7 separate regions of the Homo sapiens genome follow, and regions 1, 2, 3, 4, 5 and 6 are each reported to be linked to region 7. The links are microRNA targets in miRTarBase. Many come from high-throughput screens and were not tested one by one. Region 7 holds a microRNA gene; each other region holds the end of a gene's coding sequence.
The links. Region 7 holds the annotated microRNA hsa-miR-6086 (GGAGGUUGGGAAGGGCAGAG, at 2,432-2,451, opposite strand). A microRNA usually pairs through its seed, bases 2 to 8, with sites in the 3' UTR of a target mRNA and lowers its output. Matches are read on the target gene's strand: a 7mer-m8 pairs with bases 2 to 8, a 7mer-A1 pairs with bases 2 to 7 and ends in A, and an 8mer does both.

Region 1: miRTarBase lists MPL as a target of hsa-miR-6086. Seed matches in the 3' UTR shown: 7mer-m8 at 2,939-2,945 and 7mer-m8 at 2,763-2,769.
Region 2: the mRNA of PSD4 is a reported target of hsa-miR-6086. Seed matches in the 3' UTR shown: 7mer-m8 at 1,396-1,402.
Region 3: the mRNA of TMEM154 is a reported target of hsa-miR-6086. Seed matches in the 3' UTR shown: 7mer-m8 at 533-539.
Region 4: the mRNA of FLCN is a reported target of hsa-miR-6086. Seed matches in the 3' UTR shown: 7mer-m8 at 1,834-1,840.
Region 5: miRTarBase lists RFTN2 as a target of hsa-miR-6086. Seed matches in the 3' UTR shown: 7mer-m8 at 1,113-1,119, 7mer-m8 at 2,304-2,310 and 7mer-m8 at 3,091-3,097.
Region 6: miRTarBase lists PDK1 as a target of hsa-miR-6086. The part of its 3' UTR that is shown has no 7-base or 8-base seed match.

Annotation. Positions count from the first base shown.
Region 1 is chr1:43,351,994-43,356,304 of GRCh38, reverse strand. It overlaps MPL (MPL proto-oncogene, thrombopoietin receptor), which reads right to left. Exons shown (of 12, transcript NM_005373.3): 11 at 4,002-4,089; 12 at 1,839-3,787. The coding sequence ends at 3,533. It overlaps CDC20-DT (CDC20 divergent transcript), which reads left to right. Exons shown (of 4, transcript NR_183650.1): 4 at 1,299-1,621. Among named protein-coding and RNA genes, the nearest start is that of CDC20-DT, 4.5 kb to the left of the region's middle.
Region 2 is chr2:113,201,045-113,205,044 of GRCh38, reverse strand. PSD4 (pleckstrin and Sec7 domain containing 4) reads right to left here. Exons shown (of 17, transcript NM_012455.3): 17 at 1-3,887. The coding sequence ends at 3,630. Among named protein-coding and RNA genes, the nearest start is that of PSD4, 29 kb to the right of the region's middle. RefSeq lists enhancers at 721-770, 1,111-1,160.
Region 3 is chr4:152,625,085-152,629,416 of GRCh38, forward strand. TMEM154 (transmembrane protein 154) reads right to left here. Exons shown (of 7, transcript NM_152680.3): 7 at 1-3,477. The coding sequence ends at 3,462. Among named protein-coding and RNA genes, the nearest start is that of TMEM154, 53 kb to the right of the region's middle.
Region 4 is chr17:17,210,227-17,214,558 of GRCh38, reverse strand. It overlaps FLCN (folliculin), which reads left to right. Exons shown (of 14, transcript NM_144997.7): 14 at 703-2,347. The coding sequence ends at 904. Among named protein-coding and RNA genes, the nearest start is that of PLD6, 6.1 kb to the right of the region's middle.
Region 5 is chr2:197,568,641-197,572,972 of GRCh38, reverse strand. It overlaps RFTN2 (raftlin family member 2), which reads left to right. Exons shown (of 9, transcript NM_144629.3): 9 at 693-4,332. The coding sequence ends at 965. It overlaps LOC124907952 (a long non-coding RNA gene), which reads right to left. Exons shown (of 2, transcript XR_007087918.1): 2 at 1-991. Among named protein-coding and RNA genes, the nearest start is that of MOB4, 55 kb to the right of the region's middle.
Region 6 is chr2:172,595,551-172,599,882 of GRCh38, forward strand. It overlaps PDK1 (pyruvate dehydrogenase kinase 1), which reads left to right. Exons shown (of 11, transcript NM_002610.5): 11 at 279-4,332. The coding sequence ends at 419. Among named protein-coding and RNA genes, the nearest start is that of PDK1-AS1, 41 kb to the left of the region's middle.
Region 7 is chrX:13,588,412-13,592,743 of GRCh38, reverse strand. MIR6086 (microRNA 6086) reads right to left here and starts at 2,452; the gene lies at 2,398-2,452. EGFL6 (EGF like domain multiple 6) reads right to left here. Exons shown (of 12, transcript NM_015507.4): 2 at 3,076-3,188.

The DNA.
Region 1 (4,311 bases), not on the chromosome of region 7:
ATCTGTTCCATGCCTCTCTCCTGGCTTCTGGTGGTGGTTTGCCGGCAATCTTTGTCATTCCTTGGCTTATAGAAGAATCGCCCTGTTCTCTGCCTTCATCTTCACTTGGCTTTCTTTCTGTGTGTATGTGTGTCCAATTTTCTCTTTTTATAAGAATACCAATCATATTGAACTAGGGCCCTGACCTCATCTTAACTAATTATATCTGCAATGACCCTATTTCCTAATAAGGTCGTATTTGAAGTACTGGGAGTTAAGACTTCAACATCTGGCTGGGTGTGGTGGCTTACACTTGTAATCCCAGCACTTTGGAAGGCCAAGGCCAGAGGATTGCTTGAGCTCATGAGTTTGGGACCAGTCTGGGCAACATAGTATCACCTTGTCTCTAAAAAAAATACAGAAAACAGGCCTGCGCGGTGGCTCACACCTGTAATCCCAGCACTTTGGGAGGCTGAGGCGGGCGGATCACTAGGTCAGGAGATCGAGACCATCCTGGCTAACGCGGTGAAACCCTGTCCTGCGAAAAATATAAAAAAAATTCGCCGGGCATGGTGGCGGGCGCCTGTAGTCTCAGCTACTCGGGAGGCTGAGGCAGGAGAATGGCGTGAACTCGGGAGGTGGAGCTTGCAGTAGGCCGAGATCGCGCCACTGCACTCCAGCCTGGGCGACAGAGCAAGATTCCATCTCAAAAAAAAATAATAATAATACAGAAAACATTAGCCAAGCTAGTGGTGCACACCTGTAATTCCAGTAGTCCCAGCTACTTGGGAGGCTGAGGTGGGAGGATCGCTTGAGACCAGGAGTTTGAGGCTGCAGTGAGCCGTGACCACACCACTGCATTCCAGCCTGGGCGACAGAGTGAAGACCCTGTCTCAAAAAAAAAAAAAAAAACAAAAAAACTTTTATCTTTTTTTGTGGTGTGGTCTTGGCTCACTGCAACCTCTGCCTCCCGGTTTCAAGTCATTCTTGTGCCTCAGCCTCCCAAGTAGCTGGGATTTCAGGTGTGTGCCACCGGGCCCGGCCAAAAAAAAAAAAAAAAGGACTTTAACATGTGAATTTGAGGGAGAGGAGAGGAATAGAATTCAATCCATAATATCCTCCTACTGTTGGAACCCAAGCAGAAACCAAAGCCCAGGAGAATGCTTGGATGCCAGCCATATGAATCAGCCTTGCTAAGCATAGGACAAGATGGAGAAGGATGGAGAATAGGTCTGGGTGGGACAAATGGATGACATCCAGTATACCCAATCTCCATAATTCCTCCCCAGCCACATGAAAGGCTCTGACTTTACTCCTAGGGACTCAAGACTGGAATGGGAAGAGCATGAAATTGAGCTGTCTATCCCCCTGGATCTCTCATTGCCACCTGCCCATAGGTTGGCTGCACCCCTCCACCAAAGAAAGGCCATGACTCCTTCCTGGCAGCCCTGTCTTACAGCTACTCTCTGGTGATCTGGGAACCACTCCCTCCCTTACCCCTTGATGCCTAGGGCTAGTGCCAGCACCTTGTTGTTGTTAGCCTCAGAGGCACTTGCACTGTTCCTTGATGGTTTTCCCAAATCTTGCCCTCATCTTTGTAAATACTGTTTGCCGTTTATTACACTGTCATCATATTACCCAATTTGAGTGTGTCATCTATTTCTTCCAAGACCCTGACTGATACAGTGGGTATATTTGGAGCCAGAAAAAACAATGACAACAAAACCATTTGTTTGAGAATTAGAATGTGTTAGGAGAGTCCATAATCAGAACTGTCTGAGCACATTTACTGCTGCCTATGAACGGTTTAGAGGATGAGGACAGCTGGCATGGGATTAAGGTAACCTTGTCCAGAAAGATTTCATTCATTTAGAAAAAATTTATTGAAGGCCTACTATCATGCACCAAGCACTACTCTAGGTGCTGGGGGAAAAGGACAAATAAATCATGTTCCTTTCCCTCAAGGAGCTCACAATCTAGTAGCAGGGGACAGATATGTAAACAGTTAGTTGCATAAAGCATCACAGTGCTGTAGTAGATGTCTGAGCTAGAGATAAGAACTTTGGAATGGTCAACATATAGTAAAGGCAGAGAATAGATGGGATTGGAGACTGTTAAGAAATGGAATCTTGAAGGACTGTAATAATTGGAAGAAATGCTAGAAGAGGAGAGTAAGAAGGAATAATTATAACAGTAGTTCGGATATATGAATCATTTACTATGTCCTAGGGACTGTGCTTTACTTAGATTATCTCAATCCTCGTCACAACTCTATGGGGTGCTGTTATTATCCCTGTTTTACAGATGAAAAAACTAAGGCTCAAAGACATTAAGTTATGTGCCCAAGGTTGCACAGCTAGTAAATGTGAAGGACAGGAATTGAATCCAGCTCTGATTCTAGATCTAGTTTATTCTCTTAACTACTAGTACACTCAGCCGGGCGCAGTGGCTCATGCCTGTAATCCTAACACTTTGGGAGGCCAAGGTGGGTGGATCACCCGAGGTTAGGAGTTCAAGACCAGCCTGGGCAACATGGCAAAACCCTGTCTCTACTAAAAATATGAAAATTAGCTGGGGCTGTGCGCAGTGGGTCACACCTGTAATCCCAGCACTTTGGGAGGCAGAGGCAGGCGGATCACGAGATCAGGATATCGAGACCATCCTGGCCAACGTGGTGAAAACCGGTCTCTCCTAAAAATAGAAAAAAATTAGGCATGGTGGCAGACGCCTGTACTCCCAGCTACTTGGGAGGCTGAGGCAGAATGGCTTGAACCCGGGAGGCAGAGGTTGCAGTGAGCCGAGATCGTGCCACTGCACTCCAGTCTGGCAACAGAGCAAGGCTCCGTCTAAAAAAAAAAAAAAAAAAAAAAAAAAAAAATTAGCTGTGTGTGGTGGTGTGCGCCTGTAATCCCAGCTACTAGGGAGGCCGAGGCACAAGAATCGCTTGAACCCGGAGGTGGAGGTTGCAGTGAGCTGAGATCGCGCCATTGCACTGCAGCCTGGGTGACAGAGTGAGACCCTGTCTCAAACAAATAAAAAAAACCTACTAATATACTCAAAGAGGCAGGACCAAGGTAGGAAAGAATTTAAAGGAGAAGTGAGTAGTCAGCCTTGACAAATCTTACAGCGAGATCAAAGGAACTGATGATTAACGAGATCCTATTGGATCTTGGAATTAGAAGATTTGAGGTGCACTTTGCCTGGGCAGTTTCACTAGCAAAGTGTAGTAGGGGAACTAATTGAAGTAGTCTCAAGAGTAAATGGGAAGTGTGGGGAAGTGGAGGCTTGTTTTCAAGGCGTTTGACATCAAAGAGGAGAGAGAAAGTAAAGGAGGAGCTTAGTGAAATGAGCCTGCCTGTGGAGAAAGGGTCCTGGTTTTATGTCAGCAGCAGTAGAGTAAGATCAGTGCAATGAAGCCTAATTGTGAGGGCAGACAGAGGGGGATGGAGGTGAGGTCTGGGGTGCTTGTGTTGTGGGGGTAGGGTAGGGAAGTTCACAGAGAAGTCTCGAGAGTTTAGCTCTGTCCAGGGAACTGGGAGTGAGGAGCCTGTCCTCAAGGCTGCTGCCAATAGCTTAGTGGTAGGTAGGAATGGTTGGCAATGTGGGTGGTACAGCAGGACCCTGACTCAGCCATGGGTGGGCACACAGACAGGGGCATGGTCCCCAGGCAAGAAGGCTGCAATCTTCGGTAGTCCATCTGGGCCTGGGAGGAACACAGGGGCAAAGGAGTCCTCTCTGAGGACTTGGGGAGGATTTCAAGGAGGCTGGGTTCCACTTCTTCACAGGTATCTGAGACTGTGGCCTTGGGCTGGGAGAGATGAGGAGAGGCGCTGGATTAAAGCAGATCCTGTGGGAGGAGGGGCTGGACTGTACAGGAAGGAGAAGGGCTGGGGTAGTGCTGGGGTAGTGCCTGGGGATGGCACACTGGTAGGGCAAGGACCTTGAACAAGTTGTATTGTTGGGGCAAGGATCCAGTACCAGGCAGGGTTGGTGGTGGGCACAGGGGAGGGAAGCACACTCACCGGGCTCAGGGCTGCAGTGTCCCTAAGGTACTGGCCTAGGACCCGGTGCAGGTCTGGAAGTGAGGGCCACAGGGCATGCCTCAGTCTCCTGGGGGAGAAGGAAGAGAAGCAGACTGAGCCATGGCAGTGGATTGGCAGGGAGGAGGACAGCAGTTGGGGTGGGGGAGCAGTGAGGCCGGGGAGTAAGGCTTGGAGATATAAGAGCATGGTCAAGGCAATAAAGTTGGGCAGGGGAGTAGAGTAAGAAGAAAACCTCAGGTAGGGGAGGGAAGTCAGTGGTGGGCAGGTTCAACAAAGGGTGCTGCAGTTT
Region 2 (4,000 bases), not on the chromosome of region 7:
AGTGAGCTGAGATCGCACCATTGCACTCCAGCCTGGGCAACAGAGCGAGACTCTGTCTCAAAAAAAAAAAAAAGTTGCACTGCACATTCACAAAAAGCCACTCTCCTTGGCTGCATTGGAGACCCTGTATGATCTGGCCTCAGGCCACCCTGACGGCCCTGTTTCCCTCTGCCCCCCTCACCCCGACCCTCCAGTCCTGCTCCTTCCAACCCCGACACATTCCATATGTCTCCGTCTCCTGAAGACTCAGACCCTCCTAAGGAAAAAGGTGCGGGTCTTGGTGATCTTTTTATCTACCCTGGTGCCTGGCAAGCAACAAACAAATATCATCAGCAGAAAGCCAGGCTCAGCTGAGATCATGAGAGCCCAGGAAGCAGTTATATCAGGAGTAACAACCTGGGTCACAGCAGGCCCAGGACCCTGGAAGCTGAGCTCCCCTATATGGGAAAGGAAGAACTAAAGCCAAACTTCAAGTGCCCTTCCAGAGCCTGAGCTCATCACTGAGAACCTCTGTCTGTCCCTTCTCCTGCAAAGAGAAGGACACAGGTGGGAGAGGAGCATGGGGTGGGAACAAGGTCAGACATAGGCCTGTGGTGGTTTGATCTGTTCCATACCTAGGATGGGGACTGGAGCCTGCTCAGCTTTCACCTTCCAGCGTTACCTGGAGCAACCCTGTGGGGAGCTGTAGGCTGTCCCCATAGACTTCTGAGATGTCTTTCTTTCTCTCCATCTGCAGGAAGATGTCAGAGCCCCAGTCTTTTCCCTAGGAGAGGCTTCCCTAGATGGTGGGAGTCCTGGCCCAGGCCACTGTGGGTTTTACGAAGTTGAAGGTCCTGGTTCGGTGATGGCACAGGGGCACACATAATAACTTCCTGCCTTTCAGGGAGCACAGCTCAGCTCCACAGCAGGACACCTGAGCAGCCAGAAGCTAGAAAGATGCAAGCCTGCCTCCAAGTGGTCACATGTCATAACTGCAGCCCACAACCCAGACCCTCCAGGCAGAGGTGCCTGGGCAGCATTGACTATGGCAGGCCAGGCAGCCACCATCATCTGGCTCTGAAGATTCCACGTGCTCAGGTGAAAGAGAGGTGCCGGTTCTACATGAGCAAAGGAGCATCAAAGTGTCACACACACATGCATTCAGACTTTCACCTTTTATCATGGTTTTAGAAATAAGGATGCATAGGCCAGGTGTGGTGGTTCACGCCTGTAATCCCAGCACTTTGGGGGGCCGAGGCAGGCAGACTACCTGAGGTCAGGAGTTCGAGACCAGCCTAGCCAACATGACGAAACCCCATCTCTACTAAAAATACAAAAAATAGCCGGGCGTGGTGGCACACGCCTGTAATCCTAGCTACTTGGGAGGCTGAGGCAGGAGAATCGCTTGATTCAGTGGAGGTTGCAGTCAGCCAAGATCACACCATTGCACTCCAGCCTGGGTTACAAGAGCGAAACTCCGTCTCCAAAAAAAAAAAAAAAAAAAAAAAAAAAAAAGGATGCATGTTCAGTGAGGTCAAATAACCTACTCCACTTAGTTTGTAAGCATCAGTCTTGGGCCAAAAGTCATGTCCACTTGATGCTGGGATTCCACTTCAATCAAATGAGGCAATTGGACTCTACTGCAGCTAACTGCTACTTACACATCAGAATTACCCAAGGAGCTTTAAACATATTTATCTATCCCTCTGACCCAGGCTGACTGAATCAGCATCCCTGGGTGTGGGCTGGGAATGTGTCTTTTCAGCACACTTCCCCAGCAAGATAAAAGTGCCTCTGTAAACTGAGAGCAGGAAACCAGTGGGCAAGATTGTCAACTCATGGAGTCAGGGACATGTTTAATTCATTTGTGAATCCCCTGGTACTGGCACATAGAAAGCGTCCCATATTATCTGCAAAATGAATGAATGAATAAATGAGCAAGTAGGTGAATGAATGATTCTGAGGTCTCCTCCAGCTTTGATGGCCTATGACCGTGTGACTCCTGCATATGCATGAACACACAGACACAGACACTACACACATGCACAGACACACATACACACTTGGAGCAAAGAGGGATGAAGCCTGCCACACTGCAGGTGGTCCTAGCTGCCTGACCTCCCTTCCTCACACACTGACACACCTCCCTCTTTGTTGACCTGTTATTTATTGTGCACCCATTGGGTGCATGGCCTAGCCCTAGGCCCTGGCCGGAGACCCAAACATGGCCTCCAAGGGCCAACCTTACTTTGTGGAGGTGCAAGCCCCAGAGCTGGTTACAAGCATGGGAAGGGAGGAGGGTGGCCTAGCAGGAAGGCTGGGGAGGCAGTGTGTCAGCCGGCAGGCAGCAGCGGGTAGCAGAGGCCCCCTCTTGGCGGGCAGCCTACTTGCACACTTGGCTGAACAGAGACAATGGTGGCTGGTCCCTCCGGCCCAGCCTCCTTCCTACAGGCAGAGCCCCAAGTCCATGAGTCTCCGGAACCTCCCTCAGAGAACAAGCCCAGCTGGGAGGCAGCCAGAGGGCAGGATGAGGGGATTTCCCAGGGGAGAGCAGCAGAGACCCTCTGAGCTGCCAGAGATGGGGAAGGGGTCCAGGCACCCCACAGGAAGGAAGGTTTAAGGCATGTGTAGAAAGGAGCACAGAAAAGTCTCCCGAGCCTGGCCTAGGCCTCGCCTGGTCGCCAGCCTCCGTCCCATCCCTCACAACTCTCCTGAGCTGTGGCTCCTGCCAGGCAGACCCCTAAGGGAAACTGTCGCCACCTTTTACCTCTCTATCCTCTCCAGTGGTCTGAACATAGAGAACCTCCTTCTCTGCTCTGTTGGAACAAAGGCTCCTTGTTCCTAGGGTTCCAGGGTTCCCTGCAAAGCTCTGGAGGCCCCACCCCGCCCAGCCCTCACTCATGCCATCAGCTCTGCTCTGTTGATGAGCAGTTGGGTATGTGAGACTGTTTCATCTACTTCGGGGGAAAGGAGACACAAGGAGACAAAGGCACAGGGCCCCACAGCCGTGCAGAGCCCTTGAAGCCCCCCGAGGTCCCTGCCCAGAAGGCTGTCCCCTCAGTGGGCAGGACCTTAGCGACCCTGCTCCCTGGGTCACAGGAGGCTGGTTAGGAATTTCTCAAGAGTCCCTGATTCACTCTCCTGGGGCCTCCCCAGGAAGGTCACCTAATTCCCAGAGCAAGACCATCCTTGGGGCTGTGGCTCCCCTGGCTGGGCTGCCCAGGGGCCTCTGCTGCCCCAAGCTCTCCCCCAGAAGCCAAGGGCACACCACATAAGCACTGGTTCTCAAACAAGTGCTGAGTTCTCAGCAAGTCTAGGAAATGAGGCCACTCTGGATTCTGGGGCCTGGAGGGTGACATGGGCTGAGCTCTGGGAGGAAAGTCAAGTCCTCACCTCCCTCTTCCCTTGGGCGTGGCCAGGGACTGGGGCTGCGGAGGGACTGCCATGGGGGTGGTGGGGAGCACAGCAATATTAGGAAAGCTTCAGGGAGCACAAGAATGAGGGCCACAGGGAAACAAGGTTTGTCCTTCAGCAGGGAAAGGAGGTGCCTCATCCGTCATGGTGGACTCATTGAAATAAGTCTCCTCCAGGGAGGTTCATCTCAGGTCTACCCTGGAGCAGGGAACAGTGTCTCTGAGGTGGTGCTGGCTTCACAGCTGATTGCGGTTCCGCTTAGGGATGATCTTCCGGTAGGTTCTGCGCTCTGAGATGTTGCGCTTCACCTTGGCCGTGGTGGGAGCCTCATCCTGGTGCAGGGACGGGCTCGAGTGGGACTTCTTCAGGCTGAGCTTGGGCTCCCGAGTGCCTCCAGCTTCCCTCCCCAGCTGCTCCTCCCACAGGTCCAGAGCATCAGAGGGGCAGTGCAGGCGGGCCACCAGCAGCTGCACGTAGGTCTCGTAGCGGGTTTTCTGCAACACACAGGCCCCACCACCTTAGCACCATCCTGGCTCCAGGTTGGGAGGAGGCTAGAATCGTGAGGGACAGCTCACAGGTACATGAAGCTATGGCGATACAGACCTCG
Region 3 (4,332 bases), not on the chromosome of region 7:
ACATAAGGCCTTTTTTCAGAGATGGTGTGAATTAATAGTTTAAACCACCAAAATAAAAGAATAGACAAGTATTTTCTTAACATATCCATTTCCATTGCTAGAGCTGCGGTGATCAGCAGAAGCATCTGCCTGGCTGTCAATATCAAGGTGGATCCAGGCTGTTGGAACTGGTGGATCCAGGGGTTGGAACGGAGGAATACTAAAAATGAGACTTGGAACTTGGAAGGCCTACACCACGAGGGCCAATTCTGCCATAAGCCCTATTGCCCAGATATGTTACATAAAACATCCAGATATTACAGTGAAAGTCAGTGTGTGGCCAGACACAGTGGCTCACAATTGTAATCCAGCACTTTGGGAGGCCGAGGCTGGTGGATCACTTGAGGTCAGGAGTTTGAGACCAGCCTGACCAACATGGTGAAAACCCCATCTCTACTAAAAATACAAAAATTAGCTGGGCATAGTGACACAGGCCTGTAATCTCAGTTGCTTGGGAGGCTGAGGCAAGAGAATTGCTTGAACCTGGGAGGCGGAGGTTGCAGTGAGCCGAGATCGTGACACTGCACTCTAACCTGGGTGACAGAGTGAGACTCCATCTCAAAAAAAAAAAAAAAAAGTCAGGTGAGAAGAAGTAGCACATAGTGAAAATGAATATAATAATTTTACAGCTGGTCGGGCTCAGTGGCTCATGCCTGTAATCCCAGCACTTTGGGAGGCTGAGACAGGAGGACTGCTTGAGCCCAGGAGTTTGAAACCAGCCTGGGCAACATAGTGAGACCCTGTCTTTAAAAAATAAAATAAAATAATTTTACAGCTTTTGGTTCTCCTGTATTATACAGCATAACTAGGAGAAAAAAAAACTATGAAATTATTTTCCCAAGACCAGTTTTACTCATCTTTATCACATTTGTTTGATGTGGGTTATCCAGGAGCCACCTACATCAAGGTGGATCCAGGCTGTGGTCTTGCATTGGGTAACAAAGCCCTTCCCAGAGGGAGGAGTCACACCATTGGGTCAAGAGTCATGAATGGGTATTTTTACATATTTATTAAAACAAGTTTCCTGAGAAGTTTGACTAGGCTATGTTGTTGTTAACCTAGTTTGCTTAAAATGTACGAAAATGCAATCAAACTTACATATCTTTTAAATATTCGAAAGTCAGATTTTGTTCTGATTGCCCTATCCAATTAGGGCAAATTAGTGAGGGTTTTTTTGGTTTTTGTTTTGTTTTTTTAACAATAGTCTGAAACATAAAATTAAGTTTGGGTTTAAAAACAATTCTTGAAACTGTCATAAACATATGATATCTATTGATTAAACAGTAATAAAAAGACACAAGGTACAAGAATTGAGGCTTGGCTGTTCTGGCTGTATACTAACTTCATATACCCTGACAGAATAAACTATCTTTTTAAAAAGTGCTTTGTACACTGCACAATTATAGCTTTACCAAATAAAAACTCAATGACATGTCGCTGAAATTTGCTTCTTCTAGAATTTGAAATTATTTAAAATACTGCATGAGAATATTTTTATCATATTATATAATATGACTTCATCAACATGAAGTTCCAGGACCCCAGATGCCTCTCTGAGAAGTTCATTATTTGATAGGGTTGGATCAAATGTAAAGGCCCAGGTGTTCAAAGATCTTAGATACCTAAAGAGAGAAAGGGGCAAATGGAGGCTCTTCTGAGAGTCAAAATGTTGATGAGAAACAAACTGAAAGTAGCACACATAGGCAGAAAAATAGACAAGTTATGATTCAGAAAACAATTGTATGCAATTTTGGCATAAATATCTGAGAGTCACTGTGGGCCATGAGTTGAAAAGGAACATGCAAGAGAGCAAGGAAAACACAAAGCCTCATTCAGATGTGCTGGTGAGAATATGACAGAAAATCTGTTGAAGTTGTGTACCATGAAGTCTGTCTTTTGTCAAAGTTCTATGCAGTCCCAGGATAGCGTGATAGCAGTGGTTAAACACAACCAGCTAGTTATAGCTTTCATTGTATGGAAAGACCTCTCTGGTCTGGAACTCTGCCTTTGAAATTATCCACGTAGTTCAGAAGGCAAATACTTGTTAAAGGGATCCCAAAAGGTAGGAGACAAGTAGTTTTTGTTATGCATTAGGGCAGACTTTCAAGCACAAGACACAAAATTGAGCAGCAAATGTTTGGGTAGTCCCATCTCCCTTCGGTTTATATGTGGGTAGTAAAATAAATAAAATTTTCCTTCTTTGTCTCTTTCTTGAAATAAAATATCAGGTATCCAAGGAGAGCTGAGGATTCTCAATTTGCTAGATTGCTTTAAAGGGGTCAGATTTAGAAAATTAAGGAATAAATGAAGAACAATTTTACTGGAGTAGGTGTGGTCAATAGGCCCTTTTCCATTTTGTGCCATTGCTTTTAGCACAAGGATGTCAAAAATATCACATAGAATGTCATCTCTGATGGACTGACAGAGACCTCCTGTTGTGCTGTGTTAGGACATGAGGCTTATCCCAGCTTGGCGGGAGAGAATGCTAAGCATGATGAGTGAGATCTGCCACAGGCACGGATATTTCCTGCTCCTCTTCTGTTTGTTTCAAACCACCTTCAGGATCTCTGAAACATAGAAGGCTGACAGATGACTCCCACCTGCACATACTTCCTACCTACATGTCACATCCAAGGGAGGTATGGTGAAACAAGTGTGAGCTTTGCAGAAATGCTGACAAGCAAGGGAATTTCAGCTGAGGAGAACATTAGTTCTTTCACTGAAGATTCCTAGTTTCTCTGAGAAGTTCTTAAGGGTGACCAGACCTGGCCATGCTAGGGTCTACAAGTTACCAAACGCCACCTCATCAGGACTGTGGACCCCTCTCACTGTGTCTTCTTGGCAGGCAGAGCTTACTGACCCCCTGGGATGGTGTATTCATTAAAATACTTGCTGTGTTTGGTGTCTTTTCCATGACATAACACTCCTCGAGAAAAGTTCCTGCTGAATGTAGTTTACCTGTCCCACGACTTGAATAATCAGAGGAAATTATCCAAAGCTGGTTACTGACCCAAAAGGAAACCATCGATAAAACAGCTTCCTGATTTAGGCCCTAAGGAATGAAGCAGAAAGGTGACGAACATTTATCATGACCAGAGTGAGTTCAGTGAGCTAGAAGTTGGCTGAGAGGAGGCAACACATGTTGATCAGAAGTGAGCACATCACCCGCCTCCTTCTCCACCCTCAGAGGCAGCGATGGATGGCAGCCAGGCCTTTTCCTAGTACTTCTCAATTGCACATTCTTCCAAGTGCAAGTGATGCCATCATTAGGAAGAGTGGGCGTTGGAAGAAACAGCAAAAGGTTCTTGTGTCTATGTTGATTTGAAATTAATTAAATTTGTATCCTCTTCATCCTCTGTTGGCAGCCTCAGCAGACTCCCTCAGGGGCTGCTTCTCTTGGAAAACATGAGCGCCATTCAGGTTTAGGATTCACTGTCACTGTAAAAAAAAAAAAAAAAAAAAAAAAAAACAAAAAAAACACACACACACACACAAAACAGTAATATATTTCTTTCTTTTTTTTTTTTTTTTGAGACGGAGTCTGGCTCCGTCGCCCAGGCTGGAGCGCAGTGGCACAATCTCGGCCCACTGCAAGCTCCACCTCCCAGGTTCAGGTCATTCTCCTGCCTCAGCCTCCTGAGTAGCTGGGACTACAGGCACCCACCACCAAGCCTGGCTAATTTTTTGTATTTTTTTTTTTTTTAGTAGAGGCGGGGTTTCACCATGTTAGCCAGGATGGTCTCGATCTCCTGACCTTGTGATCTGCCCACCTTGACCTCCCAAAGTGCTGGAATTACAGGTGTGAGCCACTGCACCCGGCCAACAGTAACATATCTCTAAGAAGCTAAAGAGAGCTGGTCACTCCATTATGGAGGTGACTGAAGAGATCACAAACCATCAGGAAGCCAATGGTGTCCAGCTTACAATTTCTGAAACGAAGGTCAGTCTAAATTTTATATCTGATCCCTGAGGAAGAAATCCATGAAAGCCAAAAAATAATCCCTAGCTCTTTCTCCTCATAGCCCTCCCCAGTGCTGATGCAGAGAGAACCAGATGGAGTTGGGGGTTCCCCGTTTAATAAATCTAATCCCATTCTCTACGAATACGTGCCAAATTGCCTTTTGCTGAAACAAATTTTCCACATGCCGTTTTCTCTCAAGAGTTTGTGGTCCTGGCATGTCTTCAATAGCCCGTTTTGTTCATACCTACAAAGGAGCTGAAGGGGCCTTCTCAGTGTCATTTAGAATTCAAACATCGGGCATCCTGGGGTGTGAGCAGACATAAATGATGTAC
Region 4 (4,332 bases), not on the chromosome of region 7:
GCAATGGCATGATCTTGGCTCACCACAACCTCCGCCTCCCGGGTTCAAGCGATTCTTCTGCCTCAGCCTCTGGAGTAGCTGGGATTACAGGCACCCACCACCATGCCTGGCTAATATTTGTATTTTTAGTAGAGACAGGGTTTTAGCATGTTGGCCAGGCTGGTCTTGAACTCCTGACTTCGTGATCCGCCCACCTTGGCCTCCCAAAGTGCTGGGATTACAGGCGTGAGCCACTGCACCTGGCCCCCCGGGTTTTTTTTTTTGTAAGCAAATTTACTTTATTTCCTCCTGCCTCGATTCTTGGTAATTTTTTGGGTCAAATTTATTAATCAAACATTGTCCTGATTTAAAATCATGCAGTGAAGCTTAGGAGCAACCAGTGTCTTCCACGAGTTTAAGGAAGGTTTTTCTTTCTTCTTGGCGTCTTGACAACAGCTTGAGGGAGGGTGTGGGAAGCGCACAGGCCCCATACCCATACCCGACAGAGGGCCGAGCCCAGCCCCGACAGCTTCCCTTCCTTGCTGGGACACAGCTCCTTTCAGCAGTTCAGGGGCCAAGCCTGCTGCCCCAAGGGTGTGGATTCCAGCTCTGCCTGCACAGCTCCTGCTGGTGCCAAAGCCGTGTCACCCCTGGTTGGCCCCGTGACCAGGGCTCGAGGGATTGTGCTGTGGTGTCTGAGTGTTTTGTTTTGGTTTTCTTCAGCAAAGTGAAGGTGCTTTTTAAGTTCACCAAGGTGGACAGTCGACCCAAAGAGGACACACAGAAGCTGCTGAGCATCCTGGGTGCGTCCGAGGAGGACAATGTCAAGCTGCTGAAGTTCTGGATGACTGGCCTGAGCAAGACCTACAAGTCACACCTCATGTCCACGGTCCGCAGCCCCACAGCCTCGGAGTCTCGGAACTGACCCGTCACACACACCTGCCTAAAGACAGGGATGGCTGTCCACAGGATCCTCCAGCCCCGTGAGAGGGACTGTCCCTTGAGTTTCTCAACTGCTGGAAGGAGCTGTGTCCCAGCAAGGAAGGGAAACCATCAGGGCTGGGCTCGGCCCTGTCAGGTTTGGGGCCTGTGTGCTTCCCAGACTCTCCCTCCAGCCGTTGGAATCGCTGAAGATGGCAATGAAAGGCGGAGGGATGATGGGCTCTCTCTGTGTTCAAACTCCTTGGAGAGACGACTAGGAGGACAGCTTGCCTCCCAGGCCCCTTGTGGACTTAGACTCAAAACCCGCAGGAGAAACAGGTCCGACTCAGTATGCAGTCGCAATAACATGTCTGCTCCCGAGGTTAACATTCAAGCGTTTCTACTTTGAAATTCAGCAAGAGTTTCTGGGCCTTATGTTTGAGGGTACCTTTTGCTGCAGTTGTGAATATTCAGTACATTGCCAGCTCTTGGTCACTGAGTGATTGAGTTAGGGCTCCGCAAGAGACTTTGGGGAGTGAAGTGGATCTCTTCCTCATCTTTTGGTCCTCTGAAATGTGTGTTCTGAAGCCATGGGGCTCGTCTTCTGGGGTGTTCCCCTGCAGGTGCTGGTGAAGGTAACCTGGGGCTTAATGATGGAGTCCCTGATCATTTTTGCACAAGACAGGTTGCTGAGGGGTCGGCAAGCATCTGACTTGCCCAATCCCCTGGATATGGTGAGCCCCGCCATGCTTTTATTCTGTATCGCTTTTGTCTTTATTGCTGCTTTCAACATTTACGTTTGGTTACAGTTAACTATTTTCGGAGTGTGGTGATTGAAGACAATTTCATCATCCCACTGTACTTTTTTTTTTGAGAGGGAGTTTCACTCTTGTTGCCCAGGCTGGAGTGCAATGGCACGATCTTGGCTCACTGCAACCTCTGCCTCCTGGGTTCAAGCAATTCTCCTGCCTCAGCCTCCAGAGTAGCTGGAACTACAGGTGCCCGCCACTATGCCCAGCTAATTTTTGTATTTTTTAGTAGAGACGGGGTTTCACCGTGTTGGCCGGGCTGGTCTCAAACTCCTGACCTCAGGTGATCCACCCACCTCAGCCTCCCAAAGTGCTGGGATTACAAGCGTGAGCCACTGTGCCTGGCCCTTTTTTTTTTTTTTTTTTTTTTTTTTAAAGAGATGGCATCTTGCTATGTCGTCCAGGCTGGTCTTGAACTCCTGAGTTCAAGCAGTCCTCCTGCTTCAACATACAGCTACAGGTACCCCCCACTATACATTTTTAATAAGGATTCATGGCTCAGAGGGATTTTCTGATGGTTTTGCTGATTTGTTTCTAGTTTTTTTGTGTTTATATTTAACATGAAGACCAAGTTTATATAACTAGGTATCTGTATAATGCAACAACATTGGAACACAATAAAGATGTATTTTTGTAAATTGTTACTACATGGTTTTATTGGTTTGATGCCTACTATTTATTTGCGCTCAGGCACAGGAAATACTATGGTTAAAAAATACCAGTGAGTCAGCCGGGCGCAGTGGCTCATGCCTGTAATCTCAGCACTTTGGGAGGCTGAGGCAGGCGGATCACGAGGTCAGGAGATCGACACCATCCTGGCTAATACGGTGAAACCCTGTCTGTACTAAAAATATAAAAAATTAGCCAGGCATGGTGACAGATGCCTGTAGTCCCAGCTACTCAGGAAGCTGAGGCAGGAGAATCACTTGAACCCGGGAGGCAGAGGTTGCAGTGAGCCAAGATCACACCACTGCACTCCAGCCTGGGCAACAGAGTGAGACTCCATCTCAAAAAACAAAACAAAATACCAGTGAGTGGCCAATTCGCACAGTTAAGCTGCTATAATGATCGTAGACAATCTTCTCCAAGTTAGTCGTTGGAGTTGGTGTTGGAGAGAAGCAAACACTCATTTATCCCAAGGACATCTGTTGAGTACCTATGCCCATGTGCTTTTCATTTTGTTCAGCATTAGAAATGGCTCATCCCTTAATAATGATGATATTTAAAAGACATGTCCATCTGAGAGGAAGATGGCTGGAATCACCCTGGGTGACCGTGGCAATCCCTAAAACAGCAGGTTCACGGTTTAGTCATCTACCTCGAGTGGGAGGGGACCCCCTGGCCAATGTGGGTCAAGGGAGAGATGACCACCCACTGTCCTCCCCGGCTTCGGGTACAGATTCCTGTCTTTCTCTCGTGCATGGCATTCCTGGGAACGTGGTTCTATGCTCAGTTTTTGCCAGTTGTCTGCCAGTCTAGTGGCTGAATCCACTTGGCAAGTAGGAGCCCAGTGTAAGTTAGCTCTGCATTCACTTCAGGGGCATGTGTGACCTGGATTTCCCATGTCTAACAGAGCTTGCTGGCGAGGGGGCAGGCAAGGCCCTATGCCGACTGGTGGTTTTGTTTTTGTTTTTGTTTTTTGAGACAGAGTCTTGCTCCGTTGCCAGGCTGTAGTGCAGTGGTGTGATCTCGGCTCACTGCAAGCTCCGACTCCCTGGTTCAAGCAATTCAGCCTCAGCCTCCCGAGTAACTGGGATTACAGGTACATGCCACCACACCCGGCTAATTTTTGTATTTTTAGTAGAGATGGGGTTTCATCATGTTGGCCAGACTGGTCTCGAACTCCTGACCTCGTGATCCGCCCGCCTCGGCCTCCTAAAGTGCTGGAATTAGAGGGGTGAGCCACCGCACCCAGCTGCCAACTGGTGTTTCTAGGCAGCTGTGGGCTTTTTCTCCCCACAGGCATGCAGTTCTTGAAGATTTTTCCTATTGGTCATGAGTGCAGAAGAGCAGGAGGCTGAGCTGAACCTATGCCAGCCCAAGACCAGGCCAGACTCTGCTGTCCTTGTGAGGGAATAGGGGTTCCTGATTTTGTAGCTTTTCACAAAATGGAAGAGACAGAAAACAAGTTCCAGATCTTGAACCTTCCCCATGTGTTTGAAGGCAGTCAAGGGTTTCCTGATTTTACATTCAAGATACTTACACTCAGGGCCGGGCATGGTGGCTCACGCCTGTAATCCCAGCACTTTGGGAGGCCGAGGCAGGAGGATCACCTGAGCCCAGGAGTTTGATACCAGCCTGGCCAACATGGTGAAACCCCGTCTCTACTAAAAATACAAAAAAAAAAATTAGCCAGGCTGGTGGTGTACGCCTGTAGTCCCAGCTACTCAGGAGGCTGAGGCAGGAGAATCACTTGAGCTCTTATATATTGTGGAAATTAACCCCTTATCTGATAATATAGTTTGTATAAGCTTTTAAAAAATAAATTGTATATATTTAAGGTATACGACATGATGTTAATGACATACACACACATATTAAAATGGTTATTATAGCCAGGCACTGTGGCTCACACCTGTAATCCCAGCACTTTGGGAGGCCAAGGTGGGCGGATCACCTGAGG
Region 5 (4,332 bases), not on the chromosome of region 7:
TCATGGCAGAAGGCAAATGAGGAGCAAAGTCATGTCTCACATGGTGGCAGGCAAGAGAGAGCATGTGCAAGGGAACTCCCCTTTATAAAACCATCAGATCTCATGATACTTATTCATGGGATAAGACCCACCCCCATGATTTGACTACCTCCCACTGGGCCCCTCCCACAACACATGGGAAATATGGGAGTTACAATTCAAGATGAGATTTGGGTGGGGACACAGCCAAACCATATCACTGTGACTCTTCTGTGCAGCCTGTGTCTACATGACATGGGTGTAAGGTGGCCATCAAAGCACCTTTTCTGCTGTATAGATCTGAACTAACACTAAGAAGAAAAACATATTAGTATTTATACCTTGCTTTGTTCTCCCAAAGTATGATTTCAACAAATTTCCTTCCTTAGAGATGTCACTGAGGGCCGAGATGTGTACATAACATACCCATCAACAAGAATGATGTGCCAGGAACCTACAAAGAGTTACAAAACAGGGAGAAGGGAGTTCATTTGTATTTGGGTGGAGAGGGGAATGTGGAGGTAGCTCTGAGCTGGTCGTTGAAGATGAGCAGGATTTTGAAGAGCTGGGGAAAAGGACATTCCTGGAGGCAGAAAGGCAGCATGTGCTAGACCAGAGGGACAGGAAACACCCATCTTTTTAACTCTCCTGGTCACCAATGTCTTGTGTTTCAGAAGAAAGCCAGCCGCCACATAAAAGGTGAAGACAAGAATAAAGCCACTAGTAGAAGCATCGGATTAGACACAACCTCGTCACAACCTGCAGAGAGCAGACACCTGCCTGAGGAGTGCCGCCTTTCTCCCTCCCGGGAATGCTGGACAAAGGAGGGAAGGCTGGCACAGCACAACAGCTTCTCTGGGTTCAGCAGCAGTGACAACGTCCTCCGGGAATTAGACGACGGACAGTTTGATCAGGAAGATGGAGTGACTCAGGTCACTTGTATGTGAGCCATGAGGTGAAGCAAAGGAAGGCCCTGTAAATAATTGTTAAAATCATTGCCAACTGACCTTATTGTATTACTTTCTCTGCATTTATGTAATATTTTTGAATTTTTCCAGACCCAGCCTTTCCTCTAATCTATGTAAACTTTGGCACAACCTCCCAGACAAGGAAGAATAACCAACATATTTATACATTTAGAATCATGTTTACACTTCTCTCAACTAAAACATCTGGTTAAACAGATGTTCCATTCGGTTATTACACAATAATCTATTTCAGCTTCTCATGAATGTACAAAGTAGACTTTCTTACAATTCCTGGTAAGGAGACTGAATATCTCAATCAGTATTTTACCCAATTAGAGAGAGTTCTCAGGAAGTTACAGTCTTATTTAAGCTGAAAAATAACCTCTCTCTCTCTTTTTTTTTCTCTCTCTCTCATACACACACACAGCTAATTAGTGCAAATAAATATCTATTTCCCAAATATAATAATTAATCCACATTTTGTCTTTAACTATAGCATGTATATACAAAGCAAGCCCCTATGTGTTAAAATATTTTTTGAAAAAAATCTTTTTTATGTATCTTTGCTTTTAAAGGGTCATGTCACCAACCCTGTACTGATTCATTGTACATAAATGTTGTTGCTCCTAAAAGCCTAAAAATGCAGACAGCAAAGCAGCATCTCTTAAAATTCAATATGAAAAGAACCCATAATCTCAATACATAAATACCTTAGTAGAGAGTAAGATTTAATTTTTTTTTATTTTAAAGTCCAAATACTATGAAGAGGAAAAATATCAACTTCAATTTGAAACTGAAGTCTTTTACATCTGTCTAGATTTGAATTCTGCTTTTATTTTGACTTGTTAAATCCTGAAGAATGTTGAAACCTAGAATTTTCAATCTGGCAGGAGTAGAAAGATGCTCATAGCACACGCGATATGTATGATAACATATTTTGTTTCATCTTGCTTTTCTTTCCCCTTCTAATAGAGGTGGCTTTGCCTTGACCCAGCCTTTAACAATCTTTAAAATTCTACAAAATAAAGGATTTTCATTTATCTATGAAAGGCTTACTTTGAAAGATGGAACCTCCAAGTGAATTACAACTTATTCTATCATTGATGAATTCAGCCTATTATATATTTTTATTAACATTGATGTTGACATTGTAAGATCATTTTAATAATAAAACATCATTTTTATTGTGTTATTGTTTTATTGAACACAAATATTCATATAATATGTTTGGTTTGGGGGTTTTTTGTGGCTTTTTTTGAGACGGAGTCTCACTCTGTCACCCAGGCTGGAATGCAGTGGCACAGTCGCAGCTCACTGCAACCTCCACCTCCTGGCTTCAAGCGATTCTCCTGCCTCAGCCTCCAGATTAGCTGGAACTACAGCCAGTGTGCGCCACCACGCCCAGCTAATTTTTGTATTTTTAGTAGAGATGGGGTTTCACCATGTTGGCCAGGATGGTCTCGATCTCTTGACCTCATGATCTGCCTGCCTTGTCCTCCCAAAATGCTGGGATTACAGGCGTGAGCCACCATGCCTGGCCTTCATATAATATGTTTTATACATATAACAGATATGTATTACATGTTATCAATTATATAGTGTATCTAAACTAAGTCAATCTCCATTAATTGCTGATAAAATTAACAGGAATTATTCCACTTTTATCATCCAGAAGTACAGTATAAAGGAATTTAAGAATATTCTTCTCAGTCTTATTCTATAGCAATAGCTGTCAACAATATTTGCAGAAATGGTTTTTGTTTTGACTTTTAGATGGACTTGAGTTCCATAATCAAGAGTTAGTGGATTTTTGGTAGAAACAATCACTGCTTCAGGAGTCCATAAAACGTAATGAAGTTAGGAAGCACAAAGAACAAATCAGAAAGATCTGTTTTTCCCAATTCCAGGGTCTACAAGAGGTAGAGACTTCTTTATCATTCAGCCCACATACATAGGGGATTGGAAGTAGTAAATTAAAAACAGAGATAGGAATTTATATTTGACTAAGAAAAAACTCAGAAATATAGCAATAACTTTTTTTTTTTTTTTTTTTTTTTGAGACAGAGCCTCACTCTGTCACCCAGGCTGCAATCTCGGCTTACTGCAACCTCCGCCTCCCAGGTTCAAGTGACTCTCCTGCCTCAGCCTCCTGAGTAGCAGGGATTACAGGCCTGCACCACCATGCCTGGCTAAGTTTTGTAATTTTAGTAGAGATGGGGTTTCACCATGTTGGCCAGGCTGGTCTCGAACTCCTGGCCTCAAGCAATCCACCCACCTTGGCCTCCCAATGTGCTGGGATTACAGGTGTGAGCCACTGCACCCAGCCAAGCAATCGCTTTTTTAAAAAATTTGTGTAAGCATACTTTCTCAGTTTATTTTTTTCTCCCCTCCCGTTTATTTTTAATCTGAGTTATTTCTTATTAAAATAACTTTTATTAAAATAAACTTACTAGTCTGTCATATCCTCAAAACTTGTTTTAGAAGCATTTGCTCCAACAATTACCCTTAAGTTATGTGATGAATTTGTATGATAGCGAATAATTTATGATCAAGTGGTTCTAGAGTATTTTAAATGTGTGTAAATAGCTATGAGCCTATTATTTTAAAAAAAGAAAAAAACTTGGGCTCTCTATGCCTAAGGAGTTAAATATGTCTAATTTTATTATCTGCCAGTTGTATATTCAGTTCTTTTTATAACACTATGATTTCCTTAGGGGCTCTGGCATGTGAATTTTTAAAACCTGTAAGTTATAATGAAAGGTATCAAGATCCCAGATGTTGGGTGAAGATCTGCCATTCCCCTTGGTGTAGTATCTATGGCATTTTCATCTTCGTTTTCAATACCAAGTGTTAATTCCATCCCCTTTGGATTGTATACCACCTTGTTATCTTTTATGGACACATTTAACACCTACCTAATCACCAGGGAAATCAGCTCTATCAGTGTCATTACAATTCATTTCAGTAAAAGAGAAAAGGAAAGGTCACCCTCTTTGAGAGATTCTAGGGCTTTCAGGAGGAGGAGAAGCAGGAGACAGAGCTACAGTCTATTCAAATCACAACTATCTCCAAATCATTTGTGTTATCAGGAGCAGGTGTTTATATATTTGAATATAAATGTAACAGATGCATTTTCATTTCTTTCATTCTGGAGTGCCAGAGGAGCTGTCCCGTTTTCCCGCCCTTGCCTGTTATTGATTCCTCACCACCATTCCTTCTTGGCTGGAAGGACTGTGGCCCTTTCCCTCCCCATATGGCTAAAGAGGATTTCTTTCTCTTAACTCTTCAGAGCCCCAGAGTAGTACTGTATGGAAAGTGTAAATTCAGATGGAGAATCAAATGAAGT
Region 6 (4,332 bases), not on the chromosome of region 7:
GTGTAAAATTTCAGTCCAGCAGCTTCCAGGATGGCTGGGGAATTACTGTAAGCAACAAACTCAGTCAACCTGCACATCAGTCAGTGCCATAGATTTCATAAATAACACGTTTCAAATATACATACCATTTAAAAGTATATTTAGGTGGTATAAGGATTAATAAGATACTAATAGAATATTATTTAATTTGTCGTAACCTTTTTGCCATTGTCTATTTTCTCAAATAATGAATTCTAAAAAATGCCAGACTTAATAGGTCTTAGGTTTTTCTTTTTCAGGCTCTGTCAACAGACTCAATAGAAAGACTCCCAGTGTATAACAAAGCTGCCTGGAAGCATTACAACACCAACCACGAGGCTGATGACTGGTGCGTCCCCAGCAGAGAACCCAAAGACATGACGACGTTCCGCAGTGCCTAGACACACTTGGGACATCGGAAAATCCAAATGTGGCTTTTGTATTAAATTTGGAAGGTATGGTGTTCAGAACTATATTATACCAAGTACTTTATTTATCGTTTTCACAAAACTATTTGAGTAGAATAAATGGAAACTGAATTCCATTTGTGCCCGTTAAACCTCCTAAAGGATGAAATTGCACCTATTTTACACTTATATTTTCACAGTTAATTGAACATATTTTTAAACAACTGTAGTTTTGGGCAACTTTTCACTTTGTGGTAGACTTCAGAAGTGTGGAAATCTTCGGGTTTCTATAGGAAACTAGTTTTTTTTTTTTAAGAAATACTTTCATTTATGTTTGCTAGAAACATTTTCTAAATGATAGTGATTAGCTGGTTAGCCATCTTCCTGTTATTTGGAGGAGTTCTGCCATCTTTTATTCGGTAGTGACAGCTGTAATATGGTCTTCATGTTTATCAGTGACTTGACTACAAGTAAAGCAGAAAACAGTTGGCCTGTAATCACAGAACCAGCCACCCTTCGGCGTCTACATGCATTGTCTTAGCTCTGAGGTTAATTTACCATTTTTAAATTTTATTGTAAAGAAGTGTAATGACTAGCTCTCTGTGGATCTATGCCAAAATCATGGGCCATCTTTTCTAAGTGTACTTCTGATTAATGCAAGGGGAAATTTTTATACTGAAAACAAACAAACAAACTAGCAGCTACTAAAATAGAGAAGAAATTGAGGGCAAAGTAATATGTCTCCAAAACTGAACTGATTGCTTGTTGAGATTACCTAGAAAGCTTTTGGAAAAAAATAGAGCTTTTCTGCATCCTACTCCAGATACACTGAATCGGAATCCCTAGGGCTAGAGCCTAGAAATCTCACTTTTTAAAATGCTTCCAAGGTAAGTCTGATGCCTACCCTAGGTTGGGAACCACTCTTTCAAAGTAAACAGTGATGACACAGCATTTGCTAAAGTAACATCTGTAGGTTTTGGTTTCCACCTATTTAAAGTCAGATTTATAGACTCGAGGAGACAGAAACTGAATCCCACACCTGGTGCAATTAGAAGCATAATTAGAAGCAGAAGAACAAAATGCCACGTAACCAAAGCATCAGAGCCATCATTGCACGTGTCTTTTTTTCTTTTTTCTTTTTTTTTTTTCAAGACAGGGTCTCGCTCTTTTGCCCAGGATGGAGTACAGTGGCATGGTCAAGGCTCACTGCAGCTTCAATCTTCTGGGCTCAAGTAATCCTTCCACCTCAGCCTCCCATATAGCTGGAACTACAGTTGTGCACTACCACACCCAGCTAATTTTTTGATTTCTTGTGGAGATGAGGTCTCAGTATGTTCCCAGGCTAGTGTTGAACTCCTGAGCTCAAGAAATCCTCCTGCCTGAGTCTCTGAAAGTGCTGGGATTACAGGCGTGAGCCACCACACATGGCCTATTGCACAAGTCTTGACAAACAACATATATTTTCTAAAACTATCCAGATTTCATTATCAGGGAAAAGTTTGCTTAGGTTTATTACAGCAGTCCTTGGCATTTGTATGGTAATTTGTACTTTACAAATACTTTGATATATTATAACTCTATTGGTCTTTGAAACAAAGCGATACAGTGTAGGTGGTATCATTCTCTTTCTCACTCAGTGTGGCCCAGAGTTGCTCAGAATTGGAGCAGAGCCTGAGACGTATCTGCAGATCCTGTCATCAGCTGGCAAGTCCAGGAGACTGTGTCATTTAGAGACTGTGTTGTTAGTTATCCCTCAACATCTTCTAAGGTGGCAGGAAATAATATTGGAAATAACATTTTAAAGTAAAAATTTTAAAGTTTAAAGAAGAGTTTTGCCACTTAAACAGGGGAGCTTTGTCTGGAAAATACACTGAGTTGAAACACTTCATCCTTGGAAGGATTATATAAGATGAACAGTTGTGATAAATGTGTAGATTAGAGGGATGTGAATGGGCAGTTAGTCCAGTGCCCTCATTTAAGAGGCCAAGATCCTGATTCAGAGGAGGCATCCTTTGCCCAGAGCTGCTTAGCTAATCTGACCAAATGTTGGGAAAAATGTCTCACCTAACCCACTATTCCTTAATTATGGATTTTGTGAAAAACAATAGAACATGTTAATGAGTAATTTATATTAGTTCGATGTATTACAATTTTTTAGCTTTAAATTACAGTTTTCTTATAATGTTGAAATGTTTTAGAATCCTTTGAATCTAAGTATTTGTTTCCTAAATGAAACATTTGTACAACATTTGATGTTTTTACTTATGAAATATTCTCCTCCCCCAAGAAAATTTAAACTTTTTCTCTCTATTTAAAAGCTAAGAAATGTTTTAAAGGAAAAATGAAATTATCTTCCTTTAGCTTATTTTTAAGGTAAAACAGCTTTTTACTCTGTTATTGTGGTAATGGACAGAATATTACATACAAAAATATTCTGGGAGAGCTTTTTCCTAGTTGGTTTTAAATCATTGTGCCACCTGAAAGGTTTTTAGATTTTATAGGAGCTAATTTGTCCACCAGCATTAATGTAACACAGTGTAGTTATGAAAATATATTGAAGGACAGGAAGTGGACACGAAGTGATTTTTGTAACCTGAGCAGTTAATGAATGTGCCAACATTTTCTAGGAAGGGACAGCAAGAATATTCTGCTCTGTAGTTAAAATACTGGCTGGCTTTTGATGTCTTCATGCTTAATTGTGATCACTTTCTTGCACTGTGATGTTTTTACGTGAATATGTTGAAGTAGAAGTCTACCATATTATTTTATAAAATGTTTTCTGTATGGCAATAAACTGAAAACATGGATCAACCCTTCTTTTGAAAATAAACTGAGTCAATTTAGCCTTTTAAAAATATAGTCATCTCTTTTAAATAGAATCCTCTTCCACCATCAAGGCTCAACATTTTGTAAGCATCCAAAAAATTGGTAATTAGGGGGCTTGCACTAAATTTCACTATCTTCAGTAGAGAGGAACTGTTTGGAACTTAGATTTCCAATGTGTATATTCTAATGGAGAAAGCAAGAGGTAGAGTTTGTATGTTTGACTTACCTTAGATTTTTATTTTCCATACATACTGCAAATGATTGACTTGTTGCATAAATGAAGATCTTCTGTTGTGTGCTTTTCAAACACTGTAAATAAATTTGAAATTTGAATAACTTTCCACAGTATAACTGTAAAAAAAAAAAAAAAAAGTCTTAATTTAACCAGCATTACCCTCTGCTTGTACCAATTGAATGGCAGAACTACTATAGTCAAAAATAAATTCCTATCCTATTTTTAATTGATGGGATATAGGCAGCACAATTTCCCTTCATTGTTGAAGCCAACAAGTTCCGTAACAGAACTCCAGAGGTAAATAGCTGGGAAAACTGTTAGTTTTAAGGTCCCACTGTTGCTCTGTGAATGACTAATCAGAGGAAGCCAAAAATCAGCCAACTAATTTCAGTTTATGTCTTTAATTGTGATGTAAGTGTGAAGTTTCTACATATGGGTAATCAGGGTTGAGTTAGGTAGTTTGCAAACATGACTTTTGCTGGAGGAACTTTTAATCATGTCTTATTAATTTCTGGTCCCAATAATTAATTTTCTTACAGTCAAACCCAATGCACTTGAAAAATAATATAATTAATACTGTGTGAAGAATTTTTTGCATGTTAAAAAAAGCAAACCACTAGTTTGCTTAGTTCTGGCATTCATAAACTACTGTACCTTCTGTTCTATTGACATGTTTGGAAAAAAGAATTGAACATATGTACCACCCCCCTCTTTCTAGAGTCTCCACAGTTCTTTAGCAATTGCTAACCATAGGTTTTTAATAGCAAAAGACAAGATTGTCAGTTTTTGGTGCAAAACTCTACTCTTTTTGGTTGACTTGGAAAAGCTGTTGTTTATATTGGGAAT
Region 7 (4,332 bases):
ATCCTCCCCATTCTTCAAGGACCACCTTGCATGGCCCCTTCTTCTAAAAGCCTTTACAGATTTCTCCAGCCACCTATGAATGCCCACTCAACTTCGAGAACTCCACAGAACTTTGGCAGGCCTCTCCTGTGCAACTGATCAGTTTTTGTCTTATTAAATAATGAGGCATATATTTGGCTACAGTGCTTGTCTTTCATCCACTACTTGTTTCCAAGTGCCTTCAGGACAGGGACTTAAACATTCATCATTGTTTCCCCTGTAGCATTTAATATAGTGTTGTAAACATGTTAAATATTTGAATATTTTTGAATAATGAATAAAGTAATTACTGTAGAACTTTTAATGGGGGAACATTTTATGGCCCTGAACAAATCATAAGGGAAAAATGCTTCCCCAGCAAGGTTTTTCCACTTTTAGAGACAAAAGAGAGAGAATTTAATTTCCAGTGTCTACTTTGTTATGGATATGTACTTGGAGTTGCAACTTTAAATTCAGATGTTAGAAAAATAAATCTTTTTTTTTTTTTTTAAGCCCTGAAGACCTCTAGTTGTTCCCTGGAAACTGATTTCCAATGTGGTCCAGACAGGAAAGCCCAGCATAAATGCCAAATAGAACATAGGAGAAATGGTGAATAATACCCTTGCTATAAGGTTAAAGCTTCAGTAAGATGTTTTCAATTTACAGTAACTTTGGATCTGTGACTTCAACAGCCAATCGACAGCAAGGGAAATTCAGTTTGTGTTTAAAATGGCCTGAGATTGAAGCATGATTTAGACAAAGTAAAAGTCTTATTTGGTTCTCCCCCAAACTTCTCTATCTGAAGCTTTTCATCAGGTACTTGTTTATGGACAATTCTGTATTTCATCTCACTGAAGTGGCATACATTTTAAGGTTAATGATATCGAACTGATGAGACCCTGCCTTGGGAGGAGATTTAGACAGGGTAGAGGCTGAGAGCTAGAAGGCTCCAGGATACATAGAGGCAGGGCTTCAAAAGGAGTGAAGGGCAAATAGATGGACAGAGGGGAAGGCCTGGGTAGACTGTGACCTCACAGCCTGGGGTCTGGCTCTCCTTGTTGGGGCAGGTTGATGTGTATTCTTATTATCATGCATCCCACAACTCTGGCTTAGAAATCAGAAACCCAGCAATCAGGGAATAACTACCCTGTTATTTGGTGCTTCAAGAAACATGACTTTACCATCAAGAAGGACCATGCAAATTGGATAAAACATGATACACATTTTAGATCTAAAAATCATTGCAATTTAAGACCTGAACATTTGACTGGAGCAGTAGGTGTGCTGACCGTCTCTTCAGCTTGCAAAACTTGCATAGTGAGCATTTTGCTTGAACCCCCTGCACTTGCCCTTTTAACACCTTGCCTTCATTTATTCACCAGCGACATGCTGGGTCTCACAAGTTTTATGGCAGTAGACGCTGATGTTCGTGCAACTGTAAGAGAGACTCTAAATCATGTGTTTCACGTGGTTTTTGCCCCTTTCCACCTGACTGACTTCAAATAAAAATGTGTTATGTTGTGTCTAGCAAAAGAATAAAGCCACATTTAATCCCCCCATCACCTGGTGCTTTAATGACGAGAAGTCTGTGATGAGAATTATTGGTCCTTCCTGAAGGAATGGTAATTTATGAGGTATTTTCTATGCATGCCAGGTAATGAACTCACCCTTTAATGCATACATTCCTTACTCTCAGAGGTAGGTATTGCTCTCTCCAGGTTGCAGAGGAGGAAATTGAGCCTTAGCTAGCTTACCTTAGCTAGCTTGCCCAAGGTCACCCACGTCAGTCTGGTTCTCAATGCCCTTGATCATGACACTATCAATCCAATCAGGATGAGGACCCACCCTTTTAATTGACACAAGTCCCAGGAGGATATTCTAACTTCCTTTATCTAAGTGGGCAATGATGATCTTTGTTTTTGTCTAGTATTTTTATGCTCTTGTCATCTTGTCACAAGCAAACTATGATGGCAGAAGGTTTTGCATAATATGGAACATGTGGGAACGATATCAATGTTTTCTATTGTTTTATAGATTTTGGATATTATCAAGTTCTGACCCCACTTATGGTCAATCCAGATATTTTTTAACCAGCCAGAGAGAAGGAGGTTGGGGCAGGAACAGACTAGCAAAAAGAAGGTAGCATTGTTATTCCTAAAAATAGCTAACATGTTAGTGCTTTTATGGGACCTGCAACTGTGTTGTTATCCCATTTAATAGATAAATAACTTAGGATGAGGCACATGCTACCTACTGAAGGACACAGGGACAGTGAGAGTAGACTACTGCCCTGAAGGAATACACCCCTGGTGAGACAGTCAGGAGGAATGTGGATTTGGTTCTGCTACACTGCCAGTGTTGGTCGTTATGGAAAGTCATAAAAAGAAAAACAAGGCAAAAACTTTATGCTCATCTCTGCCCTTCCCAACCTCCTTGAAATGATCAGAGGCCTCTCTCGGAGTTCCTAACACATAGTCTGAGAAACAATGTCCAAGGCAAATTATGGTTCCTTGGTTTGCAATGTACAAAAAAATCAGCAAAATACTTAAAATCTTTGCATATATGCATATGTACCTTGAAAGCATTTAGAAATTGGCAGTATGAATTTTAAAAATGTGAGTTACAAATCTATAAGCTAAAAGGTGTACTTATTTTGTGGCTGAAGCCTACTGGTTGGGTGATTAATAATTAAAGTTTATTGCATTGGAAATCACTTAAATTATAATTAGAGGAGAAATTTACCAGCCTGCTTTTGCCCATCTTAGTTCCTTTAGATTAAAAAGAAAACCAAAAACAAACAACCCAGTCATACTCATTAAGATAATCACAAAAATAATTGACAAGACAGTCTTCTAAAATAAATCATGCCAAGTATGATGGCGTCAGCCACATTTTGTCTGGGAAGAGATCTCATAGGAACCCAGACCTTGGTTATTGGTAGTTATGCATGTCCTTGCCTGAGAGATCCACTGGCAATTTTGTGGCAGTTCATGGTATGACAGATAAAAACCTAAGGGCCCTGATCCAAGTGCAGGGTCTGAGTTTTTACAAAATTACCTTCACAGACTCCCTTGCTGTTTCTTCTCCAGCCGTAGCAGCAGGCCAGTTTAGTTCCATAGTGACAGACCCCAGGCTGACGTGCCGATGCTAACAACCCGTGATGCCTTGCACTGCAGATAAAGAACTACATGTTAGTATTGAGAAAATAGAAAAGACAACAGAAACTCTTCCCTACTACTAAAAGAACCAGAGATGTCAATTACCTGGTTAATTTCAACGAACCCGCAGTAAGTGCTAAATTAGATTTTGAAAACCTGAATTTTGGGGTTGCCAGCCTTCCTCAATAATTAGTTTCAACCATTTCCTTCTTCCCCACGGTTAAAAGAATCTATAAAACTAGGGCACATGAAGATGTCCAAAGTATATGTTTTTGAACCTTGTAGAGTGTCACTTTTCAGATCTGCTCTGTATACGCACAGCAACTATCCAGTTCTTTGTCTATTTCAGTCACTTTCTAATCCTGTGGCTTTGTCCCAGACCAGAGCTCTGCACTTTTATCCCACTGGCACCTGGGAACCATTGAATAGACTGGAATCAACATACACTATAGATGATTAAGAGTTGGAAGGGCTCGTTCAGCAAAGCCCTCTTATGTTACAGAGGAGGAAACTCCAGTCCAATGGAGTGGAGTCACATCCCCAGCAGAGCTGGGTGTTGGGAATTCTAGCCCAGGGCTCGTTCCCATTGACCTCCTGGAAACCCAATTTGCTAAACTGCTTAATTTTAGAGCAGAGATCGGCAAACATTTTCTGTAAAAAGCCAGATGGTAAGTATTTTAGGCTTTGTAGGGCCATAAGATATCTGTCCAAGTACAAAAGCAGCCATAGGCAATAGTAAACAGATGCGCATGACTGTGTTCCAATAAAACTTTATTTATGGACACTGTAATTTGAATAGCATATAATTTTCCTGTGTCATGATATGGTATTCTCCTTTTGCTCCATCTTCTAACATTTAAAAATGTAAAAACTGTTCTTCGCTCATGGGCTGTTTATAAAGAGGGGATCACCTAGCTTTGGCCAGCAGGCTGTAGCTTGCCTGATCTAGATGCCTGAAAAAGGTGAGCCCCCTGTCCCCCACCAAGTGCCCCCAAGTAGTGCCGCCATGGATGAAGCTCACTGCATGTTTACCTACTTACTGTCCTGGTATTGGACAGGGTTGCTACCAGACTTTGAAGGAAAATACTTGCATTGTATGTTTAGTGGAGGGCTGTGATTATTTCCTTACACATATTAAATACACTGTAAAAATGTT